Regions from separate parts of the Homo sapiens genome. Here region 2 is linked to region 1. The links come from fine-mapping of genetic effects on gene expression. Tissue or cell type: unexposed skin. Region 1 holds a variant in brackets; the other region holds the start of a gene. All regions are shown on one strand. Distances are between the middles of the regions.

What was found.
Region 2: FHL2 starts here. The variant in region 1 is fine-mapped to the expression of FHL2 in unexposed skin (GTEx, PIP 0.98).

What each region holds. Positions count from the first base shown.
Region 1 is chr2:105,420,963-105,437,559 of GRCh38, reverse strand. It overlaps a transcript of FHL2 not described here. Among named protein-coding and RNA genes, the nearest start is that of FHL2, 30 kb to the right of the region's middle. RefSeq lists an enhancer at 9,650-10,151. The variant G/T (reference allele first, on the strand shown) is at 8,709.
Region 2 is chr2:105,391,241-105,407,837 of GRCh38, reverse strand. It overlaps FHL2 (four and a half LIM domains 2), which reads left to right and starts at 8,787. Exons shown (of 7, transcript NM_001318895.3): 1 at 8,787-8,996; 2 at 11,141-11,191. RefSeq lists silencers at 8,684-8,813, 8,834-9,053 and an enhancer at 8,184-9,006.

The DNA of each region.
Region 1 (16,597 bases):
CCTGCCTTACAGATTAATGCTATTGTAGCTCATATTTGCTATATGTAAGTTTACTATAGTTGTTTTATTTGTTTCTTGGGAATATTATTTGAATTTTATTTTATTGCTAGGCTTTCAAAATTTTATCGATACATAATATTTTACATATTTATGGGGTACATGTGAGTGTTCGGTACATACATAGAATGTGTATCAGTACATACATAGAATGTGTAATGACCAAGTCAGGGTTTTGGGGTATCCAGGATGGGCTGGAATAAGGTCTATTATGTGTTGAGATCCACCCGACCCCTTACACAAGTTTTTGTATTTAACTGAGTAGGTGACTAATCCACTCAAATGATTACACTTTGGAGGCATTTTCTTATATTAAAAAATATTTTAATGCATAACTTCCATGAAAAGTTGCATATTTTCCAATACGGGGTTCCCTGACTGCTCACCCACCATCTTGCCTTTCAGCAGGTTTCGTACTTTTAGGTTTCATTGTTCTATTCAGGGCTTCCAGAGTTCTCCATTGATTTCAGATCCCCAAGGCCAGGCCAAGCCATGCCTCTCACTGCATTCCCATGACCTAAAGCACAGGGACCTGCACTCTTTCTACCGATCTCTGAAATGTTTCATATTTACAAGATATGGCCCAGAGACTGATTCTAATTCATTCTCTCCCCACCAAAGAAAGAGGTAAAATTATATTGATTGTTTATATCTTTTTCACTCTACAAATAATCTGTTTACTATAAAAAATACAGACCAGCAAAAAGAAGAAAATGGAAAATCATATATAGTCTTACTACTCAAAGATAACTATTTTTGCAGTTAATTGTTTATCTTAATTATTTATTCATTCTAAGATATCTTTGATTGAAAGATTAACCATTAACTTAATATTCGTTTTTTTTAAAAAAATACCACTATGAGATATTTTAAGGTGAATCCAAAAACATTAAATTATGTGGGAAACTGTAAATAATAATTAACAAAACATATATATATGTATATATAAATCAAGTTATTTGCTAATCTTCTTTCTTCCAATTTATGGCCAATGTCTTTTACTGTAGATTCAAAATCTAATTCCTTGAAAATTGGTTATCTCTATATATCATTATGACCAATTTGTTTAGTCAACATATTAAAATATTCATAATAGTTGGATAGATGAGAAGTAAAAAAGGATAAAGATTTAGATAAGACATTTTATTAGAATATAGCAATATAACATCAGTTCAAAGTATGATCTGGTAATTGACTTCTACACTATTACTGGTCCCTTTTGAATCATGAAAAACTCAACCACCTTGCGCCTTGATCTGCATGCCCTCCACACCCCACAAAATCTGGTTTACTGATTTTTTTTTATTACCGTTGATTTGTCAGCACCTCCTCACTTAATCTCTAATACACTAAAATGTGGATGAAAAATAGAAAAGAACTCACATAAGTTCTGAGCAATTTAATGTTTTACAATTTGATACTTCATTTGAATTTAATGGATACATTTTAGATGGAGAAAAGAGGAATAAAAATCCATTTTAACACAGGACTTTTGTTATAGTTAAAAAGTAATACTGAAAAATTAAACTGAACTAAGACCATATCAAGGCAACAATGCATAAAACATACTTGATCTGTTTTATTAAGGAGGAGCAGATAATTAGATATTAAGAAGAAAGTGCAAGAATTTCATTCTGGTCTTTTTTTATTGTTTGTTTGTTTATTTATTTATTTATGTTTTGAGAAGGAGTCTCACTCTGTCACCCAGGCTGGAGTGCAGTGGCACAATCTCGGCTCACTGCAACCTCCACCTCCTGGGTTCAAGTGATTCTTCTGCCTCAGCCTCCCGAGTAGCTGGGATTACAGGCGCCTGCCACCATGTCCGGCTAATTTTTGTTTTTTTAGTGAAGACAGTGTTTCGTCATGTTGGCCAGGCTGGTCATGAACTCCTGATCCCAGGTGATCCACCTGCCTCAGCCTCCCAAAGTGCTGTCATTCTGGTCTTTAAAGAGTAAGCATGTCTAGATGGTATCTGAAGCGGCTATGGGAACCACCTACTTTCACGTTAAGTAGAAGCCATCATAGTGCTTTTTGCCTGGGCTTAGTTCTGTGCAGATAAATCTAGAGTAATTTCAAGGTATCAGTTCACGGTTTCGTATGAACACAAAATAGAAAATGACATGATTTGAATGTTCTACTCCAAGTCGTATCCTTTGTAGGAAGATGAAATGGTTAAGATGAAGGCACAATGGGTTATATGAAAACATTACATATATGTAATAATATGTAATAACTAAAACCAATAAACAGTGCAATAGCTCAAAAGTGAAGTATGGTTAAATAAAATATGATTAGCCATAGTATGGAATATATGCAACCATCAAAAATAAAGTTTGCATAGAACTTTTGATTTTTAAAACTCAAACTAGAAAGCAATATTCATAATATATGAACTGAAAAAATACACCAAAATATATAAAATTATTGATTCTGAAGGATAAGATTGGTAGTAATGTTACATTTTTCTCTACATTTTAAATAGTTTACTAAATTTTCTATACTAAGTCTGATCATGAAAGTTTTCGTAATGCAAAATTCTATGCAAACATAAAACAGTCTAATTATTACCACCAATTATAAAAATCATAAATAACCAACCAGAATGATTTAGTCTATTAAAAATAATAGCTAGTTTCGGAGGCTGAGGTGAGAGGATTGGTTGAGCCCAGGAGTTTGAAAACAGCCTGGGCAAGAGATCAAGACCCCATTTAAAAAAAAAAGTTGAAATTTATTGAAAGATCATTATATCCAGTAACTATGTTTTAGCTCATTTAATACAACAGCACTATAGGTAAACATTATTATTAATTTTGTTATTATTCCTATTTTCAGAGAAGGAAACTGAAGCTTATAACCATGTTATTCATTGCCGAGGGTGCAACCAAGTTAAAGATAATGTCTTGTTTTTTTTGTTTGTTTGTTTTGTTTTTTTTTTGAGATGGAGTCTCACTCTGTTGCCCAAGCCGGAGTGCAGTGGCAAGATCTCAGCTCACTGCAACCTCCGTCTCCCAGGTTCAAGTGATTCTAGTGCCTCAGCCTCCTGAGTAGCTGGGATTACAGGCATAGGCCACCACTGCTAATTTTTGTATTTTTAGTAGAGACAGTGTTTCACCATGTTGGCCAGGCTGGTCTCGAACTCCTGACCTCAGGCGATCCGCCCACCTCAGCCTCCCAAAGTACTAGGATTACAGGCGTGAGCCACCGTGCCTGGTCAATGTCTTTCTTTCCAGTACTTTCCGATCCAGTTGGCATTAGACTTCAATTGCAAAAGAGCAACCCTGTTGCCATATGCAAGGGACAGCATGGTTTGAATGACATAAATGAATGCTTCAGGTATTGAGGGCAAAATCTATGAATGTTTTAAAATACTTGGGATAAAGTTTGCAGAGAAAGGGACGTGGTGCCTCAAGGAAAGGAGAAATTAGCAGAGGCTGAGAACATTACAGGTGAGAAGGAATGTGAACAATATGGAGATGGAAAGTGATAGGATTCCTTTGAAGGTACCAGAAAATATGCTAAATGTGTTGAGGGGTGGGTAATGACTTAAGGACAAGGGCTACCTCACTTCTCTTTGTTCTCTTTTGGACATTTTGAAAACTCAACATTCTGTAAGATGAAATAAGAAAGTCTCTTGACTCCCCAAAGTAAAAGGGGAAAAAAGAAAAAAATCATTTTCATAAAGAATCTGGAATAGGACTGATTTGGATTCCAGATTTAAAATAAAATAAAGCTCTGAATTAGAGAGATAATAGTTGTTGGCGTTCGAGTGCTCATGGTGTGTGCAGCAGTGTTGTGTATGCTGCACACACACTCAGGATGTACAGGGTGGCTCTATGAGGAGTGTTCCTGGTTTCCTTGTTTACAGGTGAGGACGCCGAGGCACTGAGAGGCAAAGGGGCACAGAGGCAGTACAGGGGAAGCCAGATTTAAATACAAGCAGTGCAATGCCAGTTTCACACTAATCCCACTAGAAACTTGGAAAAGTCTCCACAACGGAGAAAGGACCTCATCTTAAAAATGAAGCCGGGCGCGGTGGCTCACGCCTGTAATCCCAGCACTTTGGGAGGCCGAGGTGGGCAGATCACCTGAAGTCAGAAGTTCAAGACCAGTCTGGCCAGCACGGGGAAACCCTGCCTCTCCTAAAAAATACCAAAATTAGCTGGGCATGGTGGAGCGTGCCTGTAATCCCAGTTACTCAGGAGGCTGAGGGAGGAGAATTGCTTGAACTTGAGAGGTGGAGGTTGCAGTGAGCTGAGATCGTGCCACTGCACTTCACCCAGGGTGACAGAGAGAGACTCCTTCTCAAAAAAAAAAAAAAAAGAAGAAGAAGAAGAATGAGGACTTTGAACTTATTTTTATTTTTCGTTTTTAATTCTCCCTTTAGTTTCAGCACCTTCTCAAGAGGCTGGGAAGGGTATTCATCCATCCTAGTTAAACCCTGAGAGCTAGCACTGTAACCTGCACACAGTGCACAACTGACTAATAAATATTTGCTGAACCAAACTGTTGTGTTTAATTCAGTTGAGTTCTAGGAGTGTTGAAATCCAAAGGAAGGAGCTAGAAGTTTCTCTTCTTGGCTAGTACTTTTCCCTTCTGCAATCCTGGCTGGGAACCAGGTTTCATATTCACTCCCTACCTTTCAATACGTAGCACAAGGACGTGTTTTTTACATGGAATTTTTTGGACGCAATCAGTATTAACATTTGATGATAATGTATGCTTAAGGAGTAGATTCTCTGACTTGAAAGCTTCCATTTACTAATTTATTAGTTTGTGTGAGTGTGCCTGTGTGCACACATGTCTCTGTGTACACATGTCTCTGCGTGTGTCTGTGTGTGCCTCTGTATAAGTCTGTTTGTGTTGGGGGAAGAGAAGAGGATGGAAATGCTGAAAAAATTCTAAACTCTGTAAACTTCCTTTTTGAAAAGCGTCCAATTTTCTTCAGAATCTTTTAATTAACTTACTAGGAAACTGTAATATTTTGCTCTCTTTAAATATAATTTAGGAACCGAAAAAGCAGGTGAGAGAGGATAGTCTCTTTCCTTCAACTTTATTTACATTGAATAGAGAACCAATGGCCAAATGTTATGCCCTTCCAATCCCAAAATCAAAGACAGAGGTCAAACAAGACAGTCAAATCAGTTAGGTTCAGAGAAAAAATAATAGCGAGTGTAAGACATAAAGCTGAGATGTGGAAAGTGCATGAGACAAACTCCTTTTAGGTCCCTGTTTCTCTACTCCTGCAAATTGAAAATGCAAAAATCTATGAGCAGGTGCAAATGTGTTGGGACTCAAATGAACCAGCATGGGCGATCATCCAAGTGAGGGGAGAAATAAGCACACCCACAATTTCATGTCTACAAACACTCTCAGAAGGAAAATCTCTGCAGGCAGCAAGGAAAAGTGGGATGAGGACCTTCTAATTAAGACAGGGCTCTCCACAAGTCAGACAGTTTGGAAACTCATAGTGGCAAGTTCAACATTGTTTGAATAATGAAAGTTGGGTAGAAGGACTGATAAACCCTTCAGCTACTTTTATTAACAGCAGCAGCAGCAGCACATCCTCCACTCTGGCTGCTGATGAGCTCCGGCAGGATCCTGGCCTGCTGCCCTGAGCTGCTTCTACTTTTGTCTGCTGTGCTTCACTCTTTCCTGGGAAGTGTCAGCAAACCTCCGCCAGCCTTGGGCAGGAGCAGCCAGGCAACCCCAGAGGCCAATGTGAGCCCAATTTAACCACAGGTCTCTGTTTAAAATTTGCGATCATATTTGTAACTTAAATTAGACAGTGTGTCTCCTTTTCCCAAACGTTCCAATGGCTTCCCAAGTCAAAATAAAATCCTAACTCCAACCATAGCCAACAGAGCCCTACATGATCCAGGCCCTAGGAATCTGACCTCATCTCTTCCTTCTCTCTCTGTCCATCTAGAGAGGCACCAGTCACACTGCCCTGACCCAGCTGTGCCAAGCACTGCCCTGCCCCAGGGCATTTGCACCTGCTGGCATCTCTGTCAGACTCTTCCCCAAGACAATCACATGCCTTCCTCCTTCCTTCATTCATACCCAATCTGAGAGCTACCCCTAAACACTTCATCTAAAATGACACTCCTTATCAATCTCTAGCTCCTTACCCTGGTTCACTTGCTATCTCACACATATACACATCCACCTACATATATGTTTATCTCTCCTCCAATAAAATGTGAACTCCAATGAATGCAGAGACTCTATTTTGTTCACTGAGATATGCCCAATACCTACAGCAGTGAGTGGTGTCTACTAGATGCTAAATAAATGTCTGTTGAACGATGAAGTTGTGAATAATCTATTTTCATGTATTTAATTTGAGATCTTAGAAACTTTTTGACTGTAATTCATATTGTAGAGGGGAAATGTTATAAAACTCTTCCTCCCCATCATAAGGGTCATGGCAGGCATTCCTATCACAAAATCTAGATTAACAAGAGAAAAGCATAACTAATTTATTTCGTGATATGGGAGGCTTGAGAAAGGAAGACCCAAAGATCAAAGAGAAAACTGTCCATTTTTATGTTTAGAGTCGAGGAAGAGTGTACAGTGGTGTAAAAATGTGATTGGACATAATGGGTATGGCCTAATGGCAACAGACTTAGTGGGGAACCCCAGCAAGGCCTGTCTGCTCTGATTCATCTTGGCCTCTGTATGGGGCAGTCTTTTCTCCCAGACACAGGGCAGGACCTCTGTGGAATGAGGTCTTAGGATCTCCTTTCAGACAAGGTAGGTTTGGGAATTTCTTTATACCCAACTCCTACACAAAAGGGCTGGGGAAAGCTTAAAGTAATATGTCTAGGGTTTTGTTAGATGGAGTTTCGCTCTTGTTGCCCAGGCTGGAGTGCAGTGGCGCGATCTCAGCTCACTTCAACCTCTACCTCCCAGGGTCAAGCGATTCTCATGGCTTAGCCTCCAGAGTAGCTTGGACTACAGGTGCCCACCACCACACCCAGCTAATTTTTTGTATTTTTAGTAGAGACGAGGTTACACCATGTTGGCCCGGCTGGTCTCAAACTCCTGACCTCGGGTGATCTGCCCGCCTTGGCCTCCCGAAGTGCTGGGATTACAGGCGTGAGCCACCTCGCCTGGCCTATTTCTAGGTTTTATTTTGGAGGAAGAGTGGTTCTGGCTTCTCTGACCTGCTTTAAGGGAGGAAAGGAAACAAGAGGAGGACAGGAGAAGATCAGACAGAGACTTTGCTTCAGAGGCCTTTCCAGTGTGCTTCAATTCAAAGCACTCAGCAAGCCACAGCGCCACACTTTGGGGTGTCGTTTGCTAAGCCCCAACGATGCCTATCACTGGTCACAGTGTTCTTGTTAGGATTCAAGTCTAATGTCCCTTGTTCACCACTTAAACTTCACTTTAAAAATTTCCACTACACTTGCATTTTGTCAAGGAAGGGAGGTGGGAGCTGACGAGTCAGGTTGCCAGGGCACAAGGTCCTAGTTCTGCTGTTCACACTGGGCCCAGGCAAGATTTTAACTTCCCAGAACCACGTCTGTAAAATGGGAATAATAACAGTAACCTTGTCGGTCACTTGCAGGGATTCAAGGAGGCACTAACAGCCATGGCTACCATGAACTGAGCCCACGTTGTATCACAGAAAGTACCCCATACTCTTGACTTGCTTTGCACTGTCCCGTCTTCACAGCAGCCACCTGGTGCAGGGACAATTACAATTCCTAGGCTGCAGATGAGGGAACAAACCTAGAAAAGTATCTGAACTAAGGAGCTATAGTTGCTGTACTAGTTTCCTATGGATGCCGTAGCAAATTACCATAAACTTACTGTCTTAAAGCAACACAAATTTACTTTCATTTTTGGAGGTCAGAAGTCTGAAACAGGTCTCACTAGGCCAGAATCAAGGTATCAGCAGGGCTGCATTCTGGAGGCTCTAGAGAAGGAATGTTTCCCCACCTTTTCCAGCTTCTGGAAGCTACCTACGTTCCTTGGCTCATGGCCCCTTCTTCTATCTTCAAAGCCCAGAGCATAGCATCTTCACATTTCTCTTTCACCCTGGCTCTCCTGTCTCCATCTTTCATATATAAGGACACTGGTGATTACATTGGGGGATGTCCAGATAATGTAGAATAATCCCCCTATCTCATGATCCTTAACTTAATCACATCTGCAAAGCCCCTCTTGCCATGTAAGGTGTCATATTCATGGGTTCCAGGAATTCAGATGTGCACATTTTGGGAGACCATCATTTTGCTACCAATTACTAAGAGGCAGAACTGCGATTTGACTCCCAGCCGATTTCTTGACCATCATATTGTGGGGCAAAGTCTTTGGTGTTTATTAAGTCCTTTTTCCCCCTTGTGGCAGTGGAGGGAGGGTGGAAACCTCTGGATCCCAGATTCAGGTTTTGTATGCCACATTAAACAGGACAGGTCATCCCCTTCTGCCCTTCTCCTCTGCAGTATAGGACGCCAAAGGCTCACAGTTAACTTTCAACATTGTTTTATCTTATGAAGGTAAGGTTTAAAACAATCCATCTCACCCCATCTCCAAATATATTATTGACTTTTAAGCAACCACAGACGTTTGATAAAAGTAGGTTACAAAGTAAAAATGAAAGCCTAGCATGGGGACAGGCCATGACATGCCTCCCATCCAACAGG[G/T]TGTCTGTACAGAGTACAGAGCAGCCGCCAAGGGCAGACCTGGAAGCAGGATCCCCACAGTAAGAGGAGCAGGTAAGGAAGAGCTGAGGCGGCCTAGCTCAGAGTGCTCCAGTGAGGGACACAGGGTCCGGGCACACAGGTGACCAGGGAGAGCGTGGCAACCCAGGCCACAACAGATAGAAGCTCCAGGAACCAGCCTAGCAAGGTGGCAGAACAAGCTGACCCACACGAAGCCAAGGGACAGGGCAAGCATGGTCATGGGGCAGCCATGGGCGGGCCTGTCCGCAGGAGAGGGTAGTAGACGGTCCTCCGAGTCAGGCTGGCGGCCTATGAGGAGCCCAACCTCTCAGGGATGGAAAGATCCCGAAGGTAATTCCAAGGCCCAGCAAACCAGCCAGGTTTGATCCACCAGGGAGGGAGCAAGTCAACAGGACATGAGAATTATTTGGGTACAAAAGAAGTGGGGTTGCAGGGAAACTAGAAGCTGGAGATGAGCTGTAGTTTGGGGAAGATGGGGTGTTCACAGCTCAGCAAGCCCCTGGCTCCCAAATCTGTGTCAGCTGAGCTATGTCCAGACCTCACCTATGGGTGGCACGGGCCGCCCTTACACATATACGCATACCTCCACTCACTTGGGGGTGGCTCAGGGCCTCCAGGACTGGAATCTAAAAGGACCTTTGTTCCTCCAGGTGGGAAAGACTAGGGGCCACCCTCAGCAGGCTTCTAGTTGACTGAGACCTTTTATGACCATGAGTTCTCAGAACAGGATTACTTACCTGGTACCCAGTTGCTTTGATCCTTTGCTTAATGTGAGCATCACAGTGTTAGAAATCAGAGGTGAATTTACATGGGCTGTGTGTTTTTGTGACAAAGCAATAAGAATAAAGTAGACTGCATACTCTAGACATACTTTCCTCAGTTATTCATACTTAGAGTGACTATTGAATTTATGGTCCAAACTGAGGCACTTTTGAGAGCACTTTTAATAAGTATGTGAGGTCCACAGGTGTAACTGCTGGTTCTCGGGGCCCTGTCAGAGGGGGTCCCTTCTCTGAGCCCAAAGCCTCACACCCAGGCACCCAGGGCCTAGTGAAGCTGCCTTAGCTGTAAGCACAATGGTTTAGAGGGATTATTCAACATCTAAATGCTTGCCTGCAACCTCAAACACTCTCATTCCTTTCACATGCAAGACAAGAAATGCTGAATAAAGTTTCTTTTGAGGCAGACCAATGATGTAACTCCCTCACAAGGGCCTCTGTTCGAAAGTCAGGGACACGTTTATCCTATTGATTATTGACATTTGAGAGTTGCACCTCCATCCCCCAAGCCCCGGAGCTCACTTTTCTTTTGTGACATTGTTCTAAATTGAGGTGCTTTTCTGCTGCCCTCTCCACATGTTCACAAGACACTCTCTCTTGTCCAGACTTCACTGAAACAGAAGTGTTTCAAGCTCCGGGTGAGTTTCATAGTGCATATCATGGGTCATGAAATCAGTTCAGTGGATTGAGATCAGCATATTTTTAACAACAAAATGAAATTGACTAGAGCAGGAAAAAATAGAATTAAAGGGAATAGAATGCTTTTCACATAGTAAGAAATTCTTTCCAGAATTTTTTCATGACAGTATATTTTTCTAGCATTAAATGTGAGGGTGATTGATGTGGTTATGATGTAAAAAATGTACTTCCTGGTGTGGGCAGCCACCAAAATTTGCAGTCCCCTGCTATAAACCATCTTTGCAGGTTTTCTTTTTCCTTTCGCCTGGATTCTTACAGTGCCAAGGGCGGCTCTCTTACTCCTACACACCCCTCTCAGGCATCCTCCATTCTCTGCAGATGGCTTAGTTTGATCCTTTAGGCTAGAGCCAACGAAATGCCTTCCTATTTGATCAGTTCTATCAACATAAGTCTTTATCGAAAAAGGAAAAGAAAGAAAAAGCCAAAACCTTGCACCATTCACCAAGGAGTGATAAGGGCCATGTGAGTAGAGATCTCTGAGAAGCTTCAAAGCAACCCGGCTAATTCTCAGCAACCCCACACCTCCTCGGCAGCATCTGCACCCCAGCACTATTTGTGCCTAAGTGTGGGAGTGCTGGGTGTTGCTGTGCGTGTGTTCTCATGCACCTCCCTTCTGTGCCACAACATAAGTGGAAAATATCTCCGCCTGAGTGCCTGGCCCCCCTTCTGCATTGTTTCGGGGTCTTTGCAGCAGCACAGGGGCTTCTAGCCTCTTCCTGTAATTTTGCAGAAGGTAGGTGCAGGAGTGGGGAGCCCTCACATCAAAGGCTGCCTTCCAGGACTGCTGGCTCAGGGAAGGGAGGAGGGTGACCCTGGTGCAGAGCAGAAGAGAGCGACCCTAGGCAGGATGTCTGGAAGGAGAGATAAAAGCAAACTGCAAAGGTATTTTGATAGACCATGCTGTTTCCATTCTTTACCATGTGTTTTTCATTCTGCTTTTGGTTACTTTTGACTTGAATTATGGAGCCTGGTTAAGGTAACATAGATGCAATTACTTTTATACGTCAAAAATGAATACTGACTTTTCCTAGTGGGGCTGGGGGTGATGGGAAGTGGCTAAGACAGAATGCACATTGCCTTTTAGAAAGCTGGAAAGTTCTTTTCTTCTCACTTCCTTATGGCAGCAGAGAACCTGTTTTTCCAAGAGCTAAGAGCACTTTGACAAATGCACCGGGTAAAAGCTTGCATGCAAGATAGAAAGACACCCCCGATGATGACATAGTGTGGCCATTACATTGCCGAAGAGGAAGCAAATACCAAATACATCTATATTATATATGAAGGAGTGGCCTGCCCCTCCACACCTGTGGGTATTTCTAGTTGGGTGGGACGAGAGACTGAGAAAAGAAATAAGACAGAGAGACAAAGTATAGAGAAACAATAGTGGGCCCAGGGGACCGGCGCTCAGCACACCAAGGACCTGCACCGGCACCGGCCTCTGAATTCCCTCAGTTTTTATTGATTATTATTTTCATTATTTCAGCAAAAAGGAATGTAGTAGGAGAGCAGCGTGATAATAAGGAGAAGGTCAGCAAAAAACATGTGAGCAAAAGAATCTATGTCATAATTAGGTTCAAGGGAAGGTACTATGACTGGACGTGCACGTAAGCCAGATTTATGTTTCTCTCCACCCAAACATCTCAGTGGAGTAAAGAATAACAAGGCAGTATTACTGCAAACATGTCTCGTCTCCCGCCACAGGGCAGCTTTTCTCCTATCTCAGAGTTGAACAAATGTACAATCGGGTTTTACACCGAGACATTCAGTTCCCAGGGGCAAGCAGGAGACAGTGGCCTTCCTCCATCTCAACTGCAAGAGGCTTTCCTCTTTTACTAATCCACCTCAGCACAGACCCTTTACGGGTGTTGGGCTGGGGGACAGTCAGGTCTTTCTCATCCCACAAGGCCATATTTCAGACTATCACATGGGGAGAAACCTTGGACAATACCCTGCTTTCAAGGGCAGAGTTCCCTGCGGCTTTCTGCAGTGCATTGTGCCCCTGGTTTATTGAGACTAGAGAATGGCAATGACCTTTACCAAGTATACTGCTTGTAAATATTTTGTTAACAAGGCACGTCCTGCACAGCCCTAGGTCCCTTAAAACCTTGATTTTATACAACACATGTTTTTGTGAGCTCCAAGTTGGGTCAAAGTGGCTGAGGCAAAGTGGCTGGGGCAAAGCTACAAATTAACAACATCTCAGCAAAGCAATTGTTTAAAGTACAGGTCTTTTTCAAAATGGAGTCTCTTATGTCTTCCCTTTCTACATAGACACAGTGACAGTCTGATCTCTCTTTCTTTTCCCTACAATATATATATACTTTAAGTTCTGGGGTACATGTACGGAATGTGCAGGTTTGTTACATAGGTACACATGTGCCACGGTGGTTTGCTGCAACCATCAATCCATCATCTACATTAGGTATTTCTCCTAATGCTATCCCTCTCCCAGGCCCCCACTCCCTGACAGGTCCTGGTGTGTGATGTTCCCCTCCGTGTGTCCATGTGTTCTCATTGTTCAACTCCCACTTATGAGTGAGAACATGTGGTGTTTGGTTTTCTGTTCCTGTGTTAGCTTGCTGAGAATGTTCCAGCTTCATCCATTTCCCTGCAAAGGACATGAACTTATCCTTTTTATGGCTGCATAGTATTCCATGGTGTATATGTGCCACTTTTTCTTTACCCAGTCTATCATTGATGGGCATTTGGGTTGGTTCCAAGTCTTTGCTATTGTGAACAGTGCCACAATAAACATATGTGTGCATGTATCTTTATAGCAGAATGATTTATAATCCTTTGGGTATATACCCAGTAATGGGATTGCTGGGTGAAATGGTAATTCTAGTTCTAGATCCTTGAGGAATAGCCACACTGTCTTCCACAATGGTTGAACTAATTTACACTCCCACCAACAATGTAAAAGTGCTCCTATTTCTCCACATCCTCTCCAGCATCTGTTGTTTCCTGACTTTTTAATGATCAGCATTCTAACTGGCATGAGATGGTATCTCGTTGTGGTTTTGATTTGCGTTTCTCTGATGGCCAGTGATGATGAGCATTTTTTCATGTGTCTGTTGGCTGCATAAATGTCTTCTTTTGAGAAGCGTCTGTTCATATCCTTTGCCCACTTTTTGATGGGGTTGTTTGTTTTTTCTTGTAAATTTGTTTAAGTTCTTGTAGATTCTGGATATTAGCCCTTTGTCAGATGGCTTAGATTGCAAAAATTTTCTCCCATTCTGTAGGTTGCCTGTTCAACTCTGATGATAGTTGATTTTACTGTTCAGAAGCTCTTTAGTTTAATTAGATCCCATTTGTCTATTTGGGCTTTTGTTGCCATTGCTTTTGGTGTTTTAGTCATGAAGTCTTTGCCCATGCCTATGTCCTGAATGGTATTGCCTAGGTTTTCTTCTAGGGTTTTTATGGTTTCAGGTCTTATGTTTAAGTCTTTAACCCATCTTGAGTCAATTTTTGTACAAGGTGTAAGGAAGGGATCCAGTTTCAGCTTTCTGCATATGGCTAGCCAGTTTTCCCAACACCATTTATATAATTGGGAATCCTTTCCCTATTTCTGTTGTTTGTCAGGTTTGTCAAAGATCAGATGGTTGTAGATGTGTGGTGTTGTTTCTGAGGCCTCTGTTATGTTCCACTGGTCTATATATCTGTTTTGGTACCAGTACCATGCTGTTTTTGTTACTGTAGCCTTGTAATATAGTTTGAAGTCAGGTAGTGTGATGGAAGTAAATACCTTTAACCAGAAAGACAAGACACAGAGATAAACATTCTTCCTGCTACAGAAATATGGTGGATTCCTCAATGGCTGTGATCTTTGAAAAGAGAAGCAACTGTTGTCTATCAAATAGCTAAAAATACTGTTAGAAGTATAAATATGTCCCCTGATATTGTCAGAAGTTTCATCGAAGCCTCAGGCAAGCAAAATGTGTCCTCTGTTTGTACCTCAATCTCTACTCCTGCAAAATGCAGATAATTATACCAGTAAAGGACTATTGTTAGAGTTGATGCAATAGGTTTATGAAATCTTCAAGTGGCTTGCAAATAATTCAAAATCGAACTGTAATTTCCAATCATTCTAAAAGCTTCATGTTTCATTTTTTGGAGACATTATTGCTCTGTTGGCTTTTTCTAACATATGGGTATCACTGACAGCCTCCATTCTGTACTAAAATCTAGAAGAATCTTCATTCCTCTGGGGGCAAACATCAGAGAGAGGAATGGAAGAGCTGCCCCAGGGACCTGACGCTTGATACCACTTCCTGAGTCAGGCCCAATGCAAGCATCCTCAGCTTGCTTTCCACTATGAGGGAGTTGTAATGGGTTCCCATGCCGTCTGAGCTGCAGGAAAAGGAAAGAAGTGGGAGAGTAAATTAGTGTTCTGACATTATTGACGGAAGACTTTACTCTCGTTTCCTAGTTATCTGAGAGGTACAGTGTCTATTGAGTAAAACTGTCAGAACGAAAAACAGTGGTTCTGCAATGATTTTGGTATCTTGTACAATGCAACCTGTAGTATAACTGATACAGACAATCCTTTTCTCAATCAAGTAATCAATTGATAAAATAAACAGGACAAAAAAATCAACCTAAAGATGCAATCTCGTGGCAGTATTAAACTCCAGACAGTATTTAATTTTGATTTCTCTCACCTGGAGCATTTTTTTTTTTTTTTTTTTGCCAGAGATGAATCACATCTGTCACAACAATAACAACAACAACAAATTAGCGGAAAATTGATTTTCATGGTCCTGTTGTCTCTAAGTGGCTTGTGGTTTAGTTTGTAGATCATGTCTTATCTAGAGCTATAATCCTATAATGAAAAAGTAAATTAAACCAAGAGGAAACTATAAATAAAAAAAATATTTCTCTTATATGTGATCCACTATTCCCATCACAGTTTTGCTTCCTAAGTAGTTTTGTCTTATCTGAGAAGCACCAAGGATCCATCCACATAGGGCCCCTGCAATTCCCATGCACATGACATGCACCTCCATATGCATCTTGCCACCAACTTGAGAATGCCAGGAGCTGGTTGTGGTTCACAAGGCATGGGAGTTCTTGCCATTCTCACCAATAACACCAGCATCTTGAAAACCCAAAGCATAAAAGCAAACAAGTTACAAACATAAGCAAACCAACACATCTTCAAGCCAAACAGCTGTTTCTTACTATGGCTTTTCCTTTCTGGTCCACAACGCGGCCAAGATTGCTGCTGGACATGCATGGTGTTGGAGGACTTGCATGTATGTGGGGAAGGACTGCCCTCCACCGTGATTCTTTCCTAGGGCAACTCCTCTGAGCTACGCTGCCAATGCACGCAACAGGACCCCAGGAGGGGCAAAAAGCTGATGGGAACAAAAAGATGTACCAGTGAACTCTGGTCTTAATATAAAACTAGCATGGTGGGTAATAGAAACATCTTTTCCATTAAATCAAAGAAACAGATCTGGAAAACTAAATCCTAGAATGTTGAGTCCCTGATGGCAGAGACTGCATTGCAAGCTCATGCATGGAACTGTGCCCTCTGCATCACAGAAGTGCCTCCATTTGACAGTTACGATATCAGTGTCATGAGGCTGGGATACCTCTCTTGGTCAATGCAAGCCATAGTATAACTGAGCTAGACACTTTCTCAATCAAGCAGCCTTTTGATAAAGAGGACACAAAAATCAACCTAAAGATGGAATTTGGTGGCAGTGTTAAACTGCAGACAGTATTTAATTTTGATTTCTTTCATCTGGAGCATTTTGTTGCCAGAGATCTGTCACAACAACAACAACAACAAAAAATGGGCAGAAAATTGATTTTCATCATCCTGATAGCATTTGTCCTAGAGACAGCATTTGTGTTAAGAGAATAGTGTTTGTCTTTTTGATCAGGAGAGTTGAGCTTATGGTCTTAACTTCAGGCATTGGGCCTTCTGTAGCGTGCTTGTGAATACTCCACCCAGCATCTACACTCCAGTGACCAGGCTTTTGGGTTGCTGGTCTTTGAACTTTGGCCTGTAACCTCAAGCAGGGCAGAACATTGCCACAAAGCCCCAGATCACTGACACCAAATCAAATTTGTGTGGACTCTGTCCCAGACATTCCATGTGAAACTGGCTGTCCTTACAAGCCAGAGAGAACCCAGTGACGATGGGACCAGGGACAGTTCACTTTCTTCCCATTGGATTACCTTCTTTATCAAGGGAGCACTGGACCACATGGAGTCTGACCATAAACTGCATCTGTCTCATGAGCTGGATCCAGTATAGGACAGGGACACTGGGCCACCACTGGCTCTGTACAACCCCAGTGCCCCATTCTCATGGTGTGGATGGAGCCCCGTTTTCTCCTAAAACTTGTCCCACTAGTTCAG
Region 2 (16,597 bases), 30 kb after region 1:
TCTGCGATTAAGGCCTAGGCTGGTGGTGGTGGTGGCAGCGGGGGGAGGATTGGGGCAGGAGAAGAAGCCCCTCACTAGCAAAGAAAAGCTGGACTCTGAGAGAGAAGCACCATCCCAAGAACGTCCACATGCACACTTCCCTGCAGCCTCATTTTCAGCTCTTCATTGTATCTGCGGATGCTGTAACCTGGGGGTTACTTCCTTTAATTCAGGCAGAGATTCCCAAGTTTGCATCTGCTGATATCTGGAAGGCCAAGCTCTTGGCTTTGCTTTAATTCAAGTTATTTGCCAACTGGATCTCGGTGCAAAGCCCAGATAACTCGACTGCCTAAATGGGAAATGGGCTTGATGTGTTTGTTCTGAGCAGGGTCATATAGAGCCATTATATAGCAGCCTTATGTTGGCTTAGGCATTTTCTTTCCTTCTTCTTTTTTTTTTTTTTTTTTGAGACAGAGTCTCGCTCTGTCACCCAGGCTGGAGTGCAGTGGAGCGATCTCAGCTCACTGCAAGCTCCACCTCCTGGGTTCATGCCATTCTCCTGCCTCAGCCTCCTGAGTAGCTGGGACTACAGGCGCCCGCCACCACGTCCAGCTAATTTTTTGTATTTTTAGTAGAGACAGGGTTTCACCGTGTTAGCCAGGATGGTCTCTATCTCTTGACCTTGTGATCCACCCACCTTGGCCTCCCAAAGTGCTGGGATTATAGGCGTGAGCCACCACGCCCAGCAGCTTAGGCATTTTCAAGAAAACTGAATTAAATTCAGTAATACTGATCAAGCTGCAAAGTGCTGTGAACACAGATTCAAATGTCTCAGTTCTTGCCCCTAAGGAGCTCACAGTCTCCTCTGTTGTTATAAACATGGGAAAGAAGGAGTGGACTGGTCAAAAATGAGGCTATGATGGCTATCCATGCAGCTTTCCTAGTTGGGATACCTTATTTGGTCTAAGGATAAACAGGAGTCCACCAGGCAGAAGAGAGTGAGGAAGGGAGTTCCAGCAGTCACAGGATGAAAGGCTCTCCCCTCACTGGCCGCAGGTAGAACATGTGAGGTGCAAAGAGAGTGAGCAGCGAGGGCTCTCAAAGACTCTCTCCTGCGCAGGATTGCAGTGTCTGCTTTCCTGACCTCATCATTTTCCAAACATATTCTTAGAAAAAGAAAACCTCTCAAGCATTCTTTCCATCTGCTTCTACCCTGACCTGGAAATTCAAGGGACCAGAAGCAATACAGCAATACAGACAGACCCTCCATGCAAAGAGCGTGAGACAGAGAACTGAGTCCAGAAAGTGTTAGCAATGGCTGGGAAGCTAGATTACATTACAGCCATGTGCCAAATGGAAATTGAATTTCAAGTTATCAAAAGGAAGGCCAAAAAAAAAAAAAAGATAAGAAAAAGCCCTCGAGTTTAAAGATGGCTACATGAATAGTTCAGATATCTGATGGTGATTCACCGCTGGAACCCCTCCGGCCCTCCATGGAGACAATGACTCCTCTGGTCTTACTGAGGAGTAATTGCTCAGCATCTCTGACTGTACACACGATTCCAAGTATATTTATAGTGTTAGGATGGCCCAGAATTTTTGAAGGTTTTTTTATTTTTGCCAAACAGTCCTGCCAGGAGATGCTGAAGGTCAGATATTTTAGAAAATCTGTTTCTGGTACTTCAGCAGTCAACTACTATTGCAAGGATGGAGAAAGATGCTTGGTTGTTCCAGGAAGCTCTGTCATGACTCCCAGGTCCAATTTTAAAGTACCTTCTGAAATAGGTGAAAGGTATTCCTAAACATGCTCTCTAGAACTTAAAGCATAGGTTTTCATCACACACAAATCTGTACCATGGGGCAGAATTAGCCACAGGAGACATTCTCAATTGTCAATTAGCCATAAAAGTGGCTTGAGGAAAAACTAGATAATGTGAAATAACTCTTTAAAGGAAGAAGAGAGGTGGTACATTCTTTATTTCACAGATAATGTAAAGAAGACATACAAAGGTGAAGGGTGTTACCTGTGGCCACATACACTGCTCCATAGGAGCTCCTGGACCTGGGGTTCACCCCCTGCCTCCTAGAGCCTGGCCAGTCCAGGCTCTTTCTAGTTAGACTATTGGGATTTTCTGTTAATGACCCTAATCAAAGTGGAAATAGCACAAAACGACCTTGGTGGCAGTGAAGAGAGAACTTGGGATTTCAAATTTTTAATGTTGACTCATAAAGTTAATTCACAAAGAATAACAGATCTTGGTGTGGTTTAAAATAAACACTCTTGCCAGCCATGGTGGCTCACGCCTGTAATCCTAGCACTTTGGGAGGCCATGGCAGGGGAATCACTTGAATCAGGGAAGGCAGAGTTTACAGTGAGCGGAGATTGCTCCACTGCATTCCAGCCTGGGTGACAGAGTAAGACTCTGTCTCAAATAAAATAACATAAACATTCTGAGGAACAAGTGAGGCATGAGACTCCCCCATTTCAGAAATGCCTGGAAGAATCTCCCATTTCAGGTATTTTAGGGAAGCAAACCGTTCACTCAAAAGAGAATTTTGCCAGGTTTGCACAGACTTTAGACATTAATACTTCCTTTAAATGGATTTTGGAATCATTGACAGAGGAAAAAAAGAGTAAAACTCTAAGAGAAGGCAGGCAGAGAAGTGAATGGATTGCTCCTGAAAAGGACTGAAATCAGAGACAAAGAGATCTCAAATAAGAAGCAAAGTTTTTCAGAGTCTACCTTACAAATACTTTTCATCTGAAACCATCCAGCAACATTTACTGGCCCAAATGAACTATGGGTGTGAATAGTTTCATTCTATTGGTCATTAATGTACCAAACAGAGTCTTTCTTAAAGAGGTATCAAAGCCACAGTGGAAACTGTATCCGACGCTCCAAATAAACTCTAACCAAGGATGGGAAACTCGGAATCATGGAGTTGTTTGTGGATTTGGCTAAAAGTCAGGCATGTTTTGAGGCTTTAAACACTGATTATTTATATCCAACAAATAGTTTGTGAAAAAGGAGAGAGGGAAGAAATGGGATATGGAAATTGTGTATCTCAAGAAAGAGCCAATCATTTTCCCTCCTAACCAGAGCATGGCAGAAGGGAGAAGAAAAGGAAAAGAGCTTGCCCTTTGTGGAAAGCTGAGCTTTTCCTGAAAGTCTGACAGGCAGAGAAACAAAGTTTGGATCCTGCAAGATCGTTCCTGTAACCAGATCAAGTTCCTCCTGTTTGCTGGAGGCCCTTGGGTCTCCCGTCACAACTGCACCCAGCTCACGGGCACAGGCAGGTGCATACCCTGCCCGTAGAGTCATCTTTCATAGACTTCCCTGCTGGATCCGGGCAAATAGTGTTTCCAGAAAAAGCGAATCCAGCTTTCTGTGCCACCACCCTGGGATCTGGTACTGTGTCATGGGAAGGCATGCAGGGACTTGCCTCCTGACCCCACTGCCAGGAGGGGTGCTGGTTTGATCACTCCTGACCCCTTCCCGCCAGCATTTATGATCTTAGACACTTACTCACCTTCCAACCATGTGAGGCAATTAAGAATGATTGCCTCTGAATCAAGGGCAAATCATCCACCAGTTTCCTGGCCAAGGTTTGAGTGGGAGGAACAGCTTGTGTGAAATCCTTTAACGGTGACAAAATGCTTAACAATCTTGATGGCAGTGGTCAGTTAGGGTAACGAACATAGGGCGGTCTGACCTCCAGCTCATGTTTTCCTGTGTTCACTTTCTACCTGGTAATGGTGAGCTCATCCTAATCCCCCTGGGGTAGCCCCCATCCGGGTAGGAGGCTACTGTTGGCCCCTGCACAGATGGGTCTAGCCCACCAGCCTCCCCCCCACGACCCCACCACAGGGTGGCAGTTGCGAGCACACGCCTAGAAGCCCTGCCTTTCTTTGGCCTCTCCCAGAGAATGAAATTTCAGCATTTGTACAGCTCAGACCCACTGGCTGAAACTTCTACCTCCTGGCTCAAACTTCTACCTCCTGCTTCCCTGAGTGAAGTAACTGACAGAGGAAGTAATACTTCCAACTGGATTTTAGAGTTCCTGAGTCTAGTCTATGTTTAGTCTATCTCTATTTCCCTGTCCCTCCCCCACGCCCTAAACTGACATTTCGTAGGTTTCTGGTAAATTACCGAGTCCAGAGTTGGAAGCCCTAAGTGGTATTTATTTTACTTCAAATCACCTTTAGTCATCAGAATCACCTGGAGGGCGTGTTAAAGCAGGAGCTGGCCTGAGAATGTGCACTTCTAACAGGTTTGCAGGGGATCCTGCTGCACTCTGGGACAAGGCTTTGAGACCTGCTAGCCGCAGGAAGTCTTTTCCTCTCTTTCCTCCCTTCCTAGCTGTGCCTCTCCCTGAAGCCCACCTACAGGAGAGACGGGAAAACGTTATGGGCAGTGTTGTCTCAAGAAGGAATGTCAGGATAATTGGAATAAACAAAAGAAGAACTTGAATAACTGATCACAGTCACCGTTGATCCTTTCCCCAGGAAATAGTACTTTTTGTTTTTATTTTCTTCCATGAACTAGCCTTTTATCCATAGCAGAGAGGTTTTCTCTCAAGAAGAAACAGGATCTGAACAGGATCTGAACCTTAATTCTTCTTCTGGTGGGAGTTCAGTCCATTTCCTTCTTATTCTGGATTAATTTCCCCTTTGCCATTGAATAAAACAGAGGACTTTACAAAGGGCCTACTTCATGCCAAGTAATGTGTTAATAGTTCTAAGTGGTTTATGTGCATCTCAAAAGACCTTCGCCACAATTTCACAGACTATATGTTATTAGCCCATTTTACAAACTAGCAAACTGAGGGTTAGGGAAGTTTTGTAGTTACTGGAGATCATAGTAGTCATAGATAGAACAGAGATTCAAATCCTGGCTTGACTTCAAAGATCAAGCTATGCTGCCATAGACAGCATTACGCTTTCTATAGTGAAAGACTTGTCACAAACAATTCTGTGATCTGTCACTTATTCAATACACATATTTATTAAGCACATACTATGTGCCATGCTCTATAATTAATTAGGTCCTAGGAATATAATGATGTACAAGATGGATGGAACTTTTCAAAACATATTTTCTTAGATTGTCTCATGAAAATTTGTTTTTAATACTTTGTCCTTCGATGGAATTGCTCATGAAAGCATATGTCATTAAACCCAGAAATTGCATTCCCCTCCTCAATTTCTTGCCATCCTCCTTTGACTTACTATTAATATCAGTTTAACAAATTTGTTTCCTATTTTCCTTAAAGGAGTCTGTTGCTTTTATTTTTAAAATATATTTAGTTTTTGGGCCAGGCATGGTCGCCCACGCCTGTAATTTCAGCACTTTGGGAGGCCAAGTGGGTGGATCACAAGATCAGGAGATCAAGACCATCCTGGCTAACATGATGAAACCTCGTGTCTACTAAAATTATAAAAAATTAGCCGGGTATGGTGGCACATGCCTGTAGTCCCAGCTACTCAGGAGGCTGAGGCAGGAGAATCGCTTGCACCTGGGAGGCAGAGGTTTCAGTGAGCCAAGACAGTGCCACTGTACTCCAGCATGGGCAACAGAGCAAGACTCCATCTCAAATACATATATATATACACACACACACATATATATATACACACATATATATACATATATACACATATATATACATATATACATACAGATACATATATACATATACATACATGTGTATATGTGTGTATATGTGTATATGTATATATGTATATATACGTGTATATATACACGTATATATACACATATATACATGTATATGTACATACATACGTATATATACGTATATATATATTCGTGTATATATACGTATATATGTATATATTCGTGTATATATATATTTAGTTTTTGAATGAGTACATTAACATAGCTCAAAATTTACAAGAAATAAAAATGTGTACAGTAAAAATTAATCTCCTTTCCACCCCATGACCCCTAGCCACTCAGATCTCCCCAGAAGCAACCGCTTATAAATATACATTGTCTTCCCCCGTCCTTTCTTTGCTCATGAACACAAATGGTTGGTTTCTACCTACAAAGTGTTCTCTACTTTTATTTTTCTCAGTTGATTTATCTTGGAGATCATGCCAAATCAGTAAATATAGTTACCTCGTTCATTTTAACAGCCGCATATGTAAATAATTCTAAAATGCACCATACTGTATTTAACTAAGCCCTTGTTGACGAACACATAACATGGCCCAGTATTTTTCTATTACAAACAATTCTACAATGACTACTCTTGTGTGTCTATCGTTTTACACAGGAGCAAGTATATCTACAAGATAATTTCCTATAAAGGGAAATGCTGGGTAAAGAGAAAATGGTATGTTCATCTGTAATTTAAAAATGTTTTCATTATGGAATTTTTCAAGCATTACAAAAGGAGACAGACTAGTAAGATGAACTGCTGCATATCCATCATCAAGCTTCAGCGATTATCCACAATCCATGGCTGATAGTATTTCGTATATATATAGGCCCTATCCATTTCCCCACCCCAAATTATTTTGAAACAACTCCAGGCATAATGTTATTTCACTAGGAAATATTTTGGCACTGTTCTTGAAAAGCAAGGACTTAAGAAAAGAAAAATATATGTGTGTGTGTAATCACATTATCACCCCTAACATAAATTGTTCATTAATACTAGAAAATATCCTGTCAGTGTCATATTTTCCAAGGTTGTCTCATAAAAATTGATTTTCTACTAGTTTATTCTTTGATTAGAATCCAATAAGATCCAAAAAAAAAAAAAAAAAAGAATCCAATAAGATCCATACATGGCAGTTGGCTAAGTCTTTTTTTAATCTCTTGGTTCTGTCTCCATCTCTCTTGTTTTTCTTTGTGCATCGTTGTTGTAGAAACTGGGTATGTTTGTTTCCAGAGTCCGGATTTTACTGACCCTATCGAATGACCACAGGGTCATTTAAAATGTTCTGCTACCCATTAGGTCAAAAATTAAACACAAAATTAAATTGCAGAATTTCTTAATAATAAAACACAACATAGCTGAACCTATGTGACACAGCTAAAGCAGTTATTAGAAGAAAAATAACAGAACTAAATAACTCTATCAGTAAAAAAGCAAAGCTAAATGGATTACACCCGTAAGTCAGAAAGCTAAAAAAAAAAAAAAAATTAAAATATAAGACAAAAGGAATCAGAAAGAAGATAAATGCAGAATTAATGTTTCATCATTTTAGGGCTTGTTTTTACAAACTGAAGCTTAAGACTCACCATTTGAGAACTAGGAGACCATTTCCTAATTTGTAACGATATCAACAACACATCTAGGTAGCTGTCAGGGGCTGGGAGCCTTTTCTACACAAACTTTGCTCTGAATTTCAAAATACTAGCCTGTCTTGACACTTAGTGGAAATTCAGGTAGGGTGGCCTTAACTCAGGTTCTTCAGGAAAGCGTCCTGTTTCAGGGACACAGTGGGGTGGGGTCGGGGGAGGGCTGTATTCCGCACATCTAGTTCTGGCTGGGCTTATGGCAAGTCTCAGTCCTCTGGAGTCACCTGAGTGACTGAGGGATGAGAGGCATTTCTGATCCCGTAATATACTTACATGGCTTTGCCATCTACCACATCCCAGTTCAAATCTCAGCTGGCACAGTTACCGTTCACGTGGCCTGGAGCAAATCTGAGCTGAACTTTCCTCACCGTAAATCTGGTAAAAATCTTTACCTTAAAGGAGTGTGGATCAAATGAGATACCAGGTAGAGCTAGTGCTCACCGAGTGGAAGCTAAGGTGATGAAGCCCCTTTATTCTCAAGTTCTGTGATTCCATGATGGAGACCCATGAGGCCTACCAGACGGAGAGTATCAATTAAAAGAAAGCAATCACGGAGTTCTTCCCGCCTTCTCTGGAGGATGTATTCCTATGAGCTGCCCCGAATGTTAAAAATAATACACCTGCCCCCAAAGTGCCGAGGACGCCTTTGTGGTCCACCTACTCATCGTCCACCGGTTTCTGCAAGTGGACCGGTTACCTGCTCAGGAGCAAATGTTTCCATCACGACGCACCCTCTCCCAGGGATGGGCTCAACCTGTGCTCTCCCTGCGACAATGCTGAACAGTGCCATCTGTCCCTACCCAGCGTCAGCGTCACGCAGAGGGCCCGGGCTTGGAATGTGGGAGGCACGCTCCCAGCTCACTTTGGTTTTCCCGCCCTGGAGGGGAATCCAAGATGTCTAACTAGTCTTCTGGCCCCGAGAGGGAGAGGTGGGGATAGGACCTTCCTTTAGTCCCCTCCGTAGTGGAACGAAGGATTCTTTATGGTCATCTGTGGTGTTCATTTCGTAAAGAAGCATCTGCAGGGTAAGAAGGAAAAACGTCCACCTTGCAAATATATCCCAGGCACATGCCTCCTGAGAAGTGACCCCCTCCTCCCTCCGCCTCCCCCGGCACGTCCTGGGGCTTCTCCAGTCTCCCGCTCCTGGGACCAGGCAGAGATCCCGGCGTGGGCAGACCCCTGCCACCGCGCCCAGGCCTCGTCCGAAACTCGCGCCCGAGAGCCCACGCCGGAGGCGACGCTCCCGATAACTACTGTGCTCCCAAGACCCGGAGGGCACGAAGAAAGGAGCCCTGGCAAACAAAGGGTACGGGCCGGGACCGCCGCAGCCCGGGGCGGGGGCACGGCAACCGCGAGGCCTGGGGGCGCCCGCCCCCCGCGCCCCACGCCCGGTGCCAGCGAGCCGAGGCGTGCATCTCCTTATATGGTCAAATGACACGGCGGGGTTTCTCGAGGGCGGGAGCTGCGCAGCGCTCCACTCGGCCGGCAGCGGAGCCGCAGCCACCAGCCGCCCGCGCCCTCCAGCCCCGTCCGGGAGTCCCCGGCCCGCTGCGGTGCCGTGAGTACCTCCAACCCCCTGCGCCCCGGAGGGAGGCCGAGGGGCTTAGCCACCAGGGCTCGGAAGTGGGGGCCGAATCCGGTGCGAGACCCAAGGAGAGGGGAGCAGAGCCGGAGTTGGGGAGACTGGTGAGAGGAGAGCAGAGCTGTGGGTCCGGGAAGACCACTGGGAGAGGGGACCCGAACCGTGCGGGGAGAAGCCGGGAGAAAGGAGTTGAGCTGTGGGGTAGACCCGGGAGAGGAGAGCCGAACCCTGGGGGTTGGGGGTGGGGAGACCACGGGGAGAGGGGAGCGGAGCAATGGGAGGGGTCTAGACCCTGGGGGCGCTGGAGCTCAGAGGAGCCCACCGACTCATCCCCAGAGGGAGGACTGCAGCCCGCGTCCTCACCAGGTGGGGCACCGCCATGCGGGCAGGGACCGGGCGAGCCTGGGTAAAGGCTGGCCGCGGGTCCCAGCCGGCGGCTGCGGGGAGGTGACGCTGTCCGCCTGCTTCCAGGCCCGACTCCCGAGCGGGCTGTCCTGGCACGGTGGTCTGCGCGGGGGAGTCCGGGCCATTTCCCTTTAGTAGAAATAAGTGGAGTTTGCAGTGTGACCTCGCTCCTTGACTCAGGTAGACATTTAATAACTGAACCATTCGGTTAAAACAAAAATGGCTTATTTTAAATGAAAAGATTCTAAGTTTTTCTTAAGTCGCACTCGTGTGATATCTTAGCATACCAGAAATAGAGGGAAGAAAATATTGAGTGTTTTTCTGATTTTAAATGAATCAGTCATATTTATTTTCATATCCTCAGTCGGGTTTTAACTGGAAGTAGGCTAATCCGGTTAGCTGAAATGTGTAGCTGGCTTGCAAGCAGCAGTGTACTTAGACATCACTGAACTTAAGGCCCGCACTCCCTTCCACATATTTTGGAAGGTAATAAATCACAATTTGGGTTTAGAATCAGGAGAACTGTCTTCAAAACACAACTCCCAATACATCTCACATTTTTGGTGCTGACTCTACTAATGAGTGTTTTATAATAATATATTAAAGAAAAGAGGTTTTGCACTATCCTGAAGATGTTTTAGACAAAAAAAAACAAAAAACAAAAAAACAAAAACCATTTGCATCAAGTCTTAGAAGTACAGGAATTCCTAGTCTATCAATTAAACTTTAATAAAACCAAACTCAAAGAACATTTCATTGTGCATTTATATAAAATTTTGTCAAGTGTTACTGGATTTAGATCACCCCCCAGTTTAGAAGATCATCAGTTAATACACAGAATTGTGTTTCCACGGTGTTTATTAGCCTGCCATGGTTTAAAATGCGTTTACACCATAACATGTCGATGAAGGCTAATGATGGGCTTACTACAGACCAGAAACTGTTCTGGGCACATAGGTTCTGTCTCATTTTAGCTCACCGTCTCACAAATAGCCACAGGCAGATGCAGTAGGCTAGGGGATGCCGGGGACTGCATGTAGGCTGCCTAAATTTACATCCGGGTCCCTCAACCTGTGCAGCCTGGGCCAAGTCACTTAATCTCGTAGTGTCTCGGTTTTCTCCACTGGGAAACAGGGACAATGATGTTGTCTTTTTGTTAGGGTTGTTAAGAAGCCTGGACATCATAGACAGTGTATACATATTTGATAGCCTCATTTTTACAGGTAAAGACACTGAAAACAGAGATCAAAGTAACTTTAACTCAGGGTTTCCCGGGCTGTAAATGGTAGCCCTGAGATCTGACCCCAGGCAGCTTAACTGGAGAACCTGAGTTCTAACCACTAAACGCACCACGGGAGGAACATTTGAATATTTATTTATTTTTTTTAACATTTGAATATTTCTATGAGGCCTTATGATGCATACTTTGACCCAAGATTGCGTGTTAAACCATTTCCAGTACTGAAAGATATTTAAATTGCAGTCAAAAACGCCCAATAGAATATTGCCAAAAAAAAAAAAAAAAAAAAACAGACTAGATATCAGGAGTAGTTTACTCCTGTCCTGTGCCGAGGGCCAGTTACTCAGCCTCAGTGACTCAGGCAGCCTCCTTTGTCAGCACCGGGCCTGAGTCGCTAAGCGGCTCTCTGACTCAGATGCCCTGAGGTACAAAGTTCCTTGAGCTTGGGTGAATGGAAACATTAGACATTGGGTTCTTCTGTGCGGTTTTATTATGAGAATTTGATCAAAGCCACATTTATTAAGTGTCCATCTCAAGTTGCATTATACTGAGTTCGCTTCCTCAAGATGACCATCTGAAACAAAACACGTGTGCTTTCTCTAGTGGCTGAGAACTGTGTCTTCCTGGAGACTAGGCTGGCATTTTGACTTTGGGGTGAGTCAAGTGAATTTCCTCTGTTATCCTAAATTGTGGATTTCAGTTTTAGCTACTGTGATGGTTACTTTCATGTGTCAACTTGACTGGGCCATGCGGTGCCCAAACATTCAGTCATATGTTCTGGGTGTGTCTGGGAGGGTGTTTTTGGATGAGATTGACATATGAATGGGTAGACTGAGTAAAGCAGGCTGCTCTCCATAATGTGAGTGGGCCTTGTCCAAACAGTTGAAGGCCTGAATAGAACAAAAAAACTGAGTAAGAGGGAAGCCCCCCTGCCGGACTGCTTGAGCTGGGACATTGGTCCTTTCCGCCTTTGGACTCACACTGAAACATCGGCTCTTCTTGGGTCTATAGAGTCTCCTCTTTTCAGACTGCAATTTGCACCATCGGCTCTCCTGGGTCTCCAGCCTACTGACTGCAGGTCTTGGGACTTTTTCACCTTCGTAATTGTGTGAGCTAAATCATTGCGATAAATCTCTCTATGTACATCTCTTGTTGGTTCTATTTTTCTAGAAAACCCTGACTATTACAGCTCTCTGGTAACATCTATTTAAAAAGTCTCCCCACCAACTGTCATTCTCCCTTTTTTTAAGATTTGATCACTACTTTGCTCCTGGGAGTCTTGGCTTTCCTCTTGCTGTAAAACATGCTCTCTGCATGGGGATGTCACGAGGGGTCTGGAGCAGCGTCTGGTCTCCCAGGTCCATCCCAGTGCTCGTGGGTGGTGTCTTGCCTGGTGTGAACTTAGACTTCACACTCATCCTCAGCCTTCGGTGGCCCACGCCTTTACTAGCCTGATTCTGTCTGCGGCTTCAAGATCCTCCCGTCATATGGTCTTGAGTGAGATGTGGGATGTCTGTGGCAGAAGCAGCTGCCCTGTTTTCATGGGTGAACAGAATTAATGCCAGAATGTCCTTGCAGTATGTAAATATGGAGCTTGTCAGTCAACAAGGAAATAGACCTGTCTGCTTGGGTTAATACAACTTTTGGAGTCACTAAGAAGCAGGCAGTCAATGAAGGAAGCAGAAGGAACTGTGCAAGCCTCTCGGGACAGAGTCCTGTTGCAGTGCGCCAGAGAAACCCCACAGAGTGGCAGGACTGCAGTGAGAAGGAGGTGGCCAGTCATTCATGGAAGCTGCTGGATGCCAAGAGAAAGGCCAGCATGGGGGTGGGGGTCATAGGCACCTCAGATAGCTGGGAGAGTGAACAGTGAGCCGCACTTGGGAGGTGAGAGGAGACCCCTGCCATGAAGAAGAGTGGGTGGTTTTCGTTTTGTAGGTGTAGAAGTGTTCGTAACTCACTCAGGGAAGGCATGGTAGAGCCATAGCATGCAGGATGGAGTCTCCCTTGGTCCCCACACTGGTGTGATTGACGGACCCGAGGCCACCCGCCATTCTAGCGTGTGCAGCTATGGTTGTCCTGCATGGCTGCAATTGATGTGTTTTGAGATTAAATGACAAGATGGGATCTTAAAGGTGATTTAAATTATTTGGAGCTAGAACTAGACTGGAACTCCTTCATAGACTGTGTGTTTTATCTCAGCTTCCCAGTGCCTCACGTAGCACATGGAAAACAGTGGTTACTCAACACATTCTTGTCGGCTGGGTTCAAAAGGCTGAACGACATCAAAACAAGTGTAACTCCTCTTGTAGTCATGGACTTCAGATCAGAAATTTGATATTTATTGTTTTCCCTTTATTTTTAGTATTCAATATTCAAAAGATAATTCAGAAGACAGCAGTTTACCTTATTCAAACATTGCCTCATGCAGAACCACCAGAGATGAAGATGTTTATTTATTTTTTTTAAGTTGGAAGTTACCAGTTTATGTAAACTATAATACACCTCTGACACCTGTCTGTACATGCATTTAGTAAAGGCTTATTAAATTAATCTGTAAATATATTATACAGTGGTAAGCATAGTCAATTTTATACCTTACAAACTAAGATTGTTTAAAATCCAACAATTTAAAAATAGATTTCAAGTGGATGCTAGATACTTTTTTTCTTTCTTTCTTTTTTCTCTTTCTTTCTTTCTTTCCTTCTTTTCTTTTTTTTTTCCCAGGGTCTCATTCTGTTGCTCAGGCTGGAGTGCAGTAGCTTTTCACAGGTGCCATCATAGCTCACTAAAGCCTCAAACCCCTGGGCTCAAGCAGTCCTCCTGCCTCAGTCTCCCAGGTAGCTAGGACTGTAGGCACACATCACCATATCCAACTGATATAAATTTTTTTTTTTTTTTAGAGACCGGGTCTTACACTGTGGTCCAGGCTGGAGTATAGTGGCAGCACTACAGCTCACTGCAGCCTCGAACTCTTGGGCTCAAGAGATCCTCTCTCTTTAGGGACTCCAAGGCTTGATCCATTATTCTAGTTTATAAAACAGCAACTTTCCTTGACATGATGGCCCTCTCCGTTTTATCAGAATTTCTGTTTAAAACAACCCGTTTAGCTAGACAAATGAAGAGTGTTGGGGGTGAGCGGTTTTTGTGTGTAGATACTCCCATCCGTAGGAAAATAAAATGGTGCGGGGTATTCTCTGAGCACATTTCCAGGTGTGAGAGTCCCGTGCCTTTGAATGGAGGATCTTTGATTATAGGCATCACATGTCTGTAGAACATCAGGGCCTTCTGCTGACACCTGGAGCCCGTGTTGGGGATCTGTGCGTTCTTCCCAAAGTGGGCACGACTCCCAGCTGGCTTTTTGCTTCTTGACCTGGCCAGGCTGCATCCTGGACTGTGCAGCTGTGTGTTCACATGGGATTGGAGTCCAAACACAATAAGAAGAGTTATATCCGCTGCGGAAGCAGCAGCTTATCTGGAAGGAGGGACGAGGGCAGCGATGGAAGCTCATGATGTCATATGCCAAACCACATTACATGTTGGGTTTGCTATGCAGAGTGGATTGTTCACATAATATGTTTCTAATTTTTCATGCTTGATTTTTGCCTGTATGTTTGTACTCTGACATGTTTGTATTCATCCACCCGTCAATTCATTTGTTCATCCATTCCACAAGTATTCACAAAGCCCCTGGTCCTGTGTGTGTTCCCTGCTGGTGAGGTCTCAGCGACAGGTAGTGGGCACCCTTCCCAATGCTTACGGTTGGTAGAAGACGGGGCAATTGCATGAAAACACTGCACTTTTATAATGTATTTTTTAAAAGAGCCCACATAGACCAGTTTTCCTAATTGTCTCTGGAAAGCTCTGGTTGATTATTGATAAGTAATTGAATATCCCTTGCGGATCCCCGGTGACATCTAAAGATACAGGGACTGACTTACCGAAGCTGCTTTTGCATGTGTTGAAGGGCTGCATGCAGGAAGGGCTTGGGGACGTTCACAGATTTCTCCTTAGGAAATGGCTATGTTAGAGGAGCCTCCTGCAGCAGGGTTGATAGGGAGAAGCACTTGGGGTTTCAAAGGGGGAGGAGAAAATGGGCCCATTGGGGTCAGATCAAAGTAGGTAGTCAATAAAAGGTGCATTGAAAAGGATGCTTAAATAGACTTCTTTTGCTAATCTGACCTCTTCAGGCTTTACCTGTAGGGATCTGCCAGGCTCCTGGAACTCCAAGGCCTGAGCCAGCAAGCCAAGGGAGGCTGTCTGTCATGGCAGCCCCTCCTTTGATCGAAATCTTTCTGGTTAAAAAAAAAAAAAAAATTAGCTGGGTGCGGTGATGCACGCCTGTAATACCAGCTACTTGGGAGGCTGAGACAGGAGAATTGCTTGAACCTAGGATGTGGAGGCTGAAGTGAGCCAAGATAGGGCCAGTGCACTCCAGCCTGGGTGATAGAGTGACACTGTCTCAAGAAAAAAAAAAAAAAAAAAAAAAAAGCTTCCTGGCATGCAGGGTCCTTGCCTCTCTTCTGCCTCATTTCATTTACCCTCCTCCTTCCTTTTTTTGTCCTGTCACCACCCTTCTCCCCTTCTCTTTACTCTTTCTGTTTCCTTTTCCCTTTATTTTCCTCCAGCTTTGATACTTTCCCCACTCATACTTTGTTTTACAGTTTTTGAATCTGAAAATTTAAAAATAGATCACACTGATGAGCTTGTGAACTTTTAAAATTAGTATGAATTGTGAGTAGTAGAGTGCATTGTTGCTCCCTGGCCCTCTGAACCTTTATTCTTACATCCTTTTTATTTCTTTTTCTTTTTTTTCTTTGGAGACATGGTCTGTGTCACCATGAGGCTGTTTCCTTGAGGCTGGAGAGCAGTGATGCTATCATGGCTCACTGCAGCCTCGACCTCCTGGGCTCAAGATCCTCCCACCTCAGCCTCCTGAGTAGTAGGGACTACAAATGCATGCCACCACACCCGGCAAATTTTTTGTGTTTTTTGTAGAGATGGGGTTTCTCCATGTTGCCCAGGCTGGTCTTGAACTACAGGGCTCAAACGATATGTCTGCCTCGGTCTCCCAAAGTACTGGGACTACAGGCATGAGCCTCTGTACCCGACCTATTCTTACATCTGAGTCAAAGCTGGGCTAGCGAGAGACTCAGAGATCAAAGCCTTCCCTGGGCCATCCCCAGACCTCCGAGCTGCACCTGGCACCTGCCTCACCCATTGCAGTTCCCTTGGCCTGGAGTCAAGCCTGTACCCTAAGATCCAGCTTTTTCAAATACCCTATTCAGGGCCGAAGGGGTAATGACATCATGGAATGATTTAGCTTGGTGAGGAATAAGAACTCCAGGAAACTGTGATTTGGAATTTGATTCAGTGAAATAAAAAGGAGGGGTTGCGCCTTATGTTTGGGCATCTCCCTGCAGGCTGTTGCCTGATGCTTTCAGCATTCCTGTGTACCAGCTAAGGAGCAGGAATTATTGATAACCTGTCAGGAGGGATGTGGAGTTCACAGAGAGTAAATGGATTGTACACAATTAGGTTAATAAGTCCTTGTAGAACCAAGATGTCCTACTTTTATTTGAAGAAATCATTCAGAAATGGGCTCTGATACCCTGATACATTTTTTAGGAGTCATTGCCCCCTGTCTTGCATAGTAAAGGCAGGCTTCCATGCAGTAAACTTTCACTGGGCTGTCCGTTTCTCCACTGCCTGCGAGGCATACCCAAGTCCATGAACAAGGCATCCAGGCCCTCATTGCCTTGGCTGTTGACTGGGTCTTCCATCTTCCTGGGCTCTCTGCCTACCCTACTCTGTCTCTCATGTCTCTGGCTTTGCCTACTCCACCCCTTGACCTGACCTGCCATATCACCTGGCTGACCTGTTCCTAGCACAGATAGCATCTCCTCTGGGATGCCTGCCTGCTCTCTCAGGGGCTCCTCCTCTGCGTGCCCATCATACCTGTGCACCTCCAGCACGCACTGAGTAAGGGGCTTGGTAGTCTGTTTGGTATATATCTCTTTTCCTCACTAGATAACAAGTCCCTTGAGGGGAGGGGCCTGCATT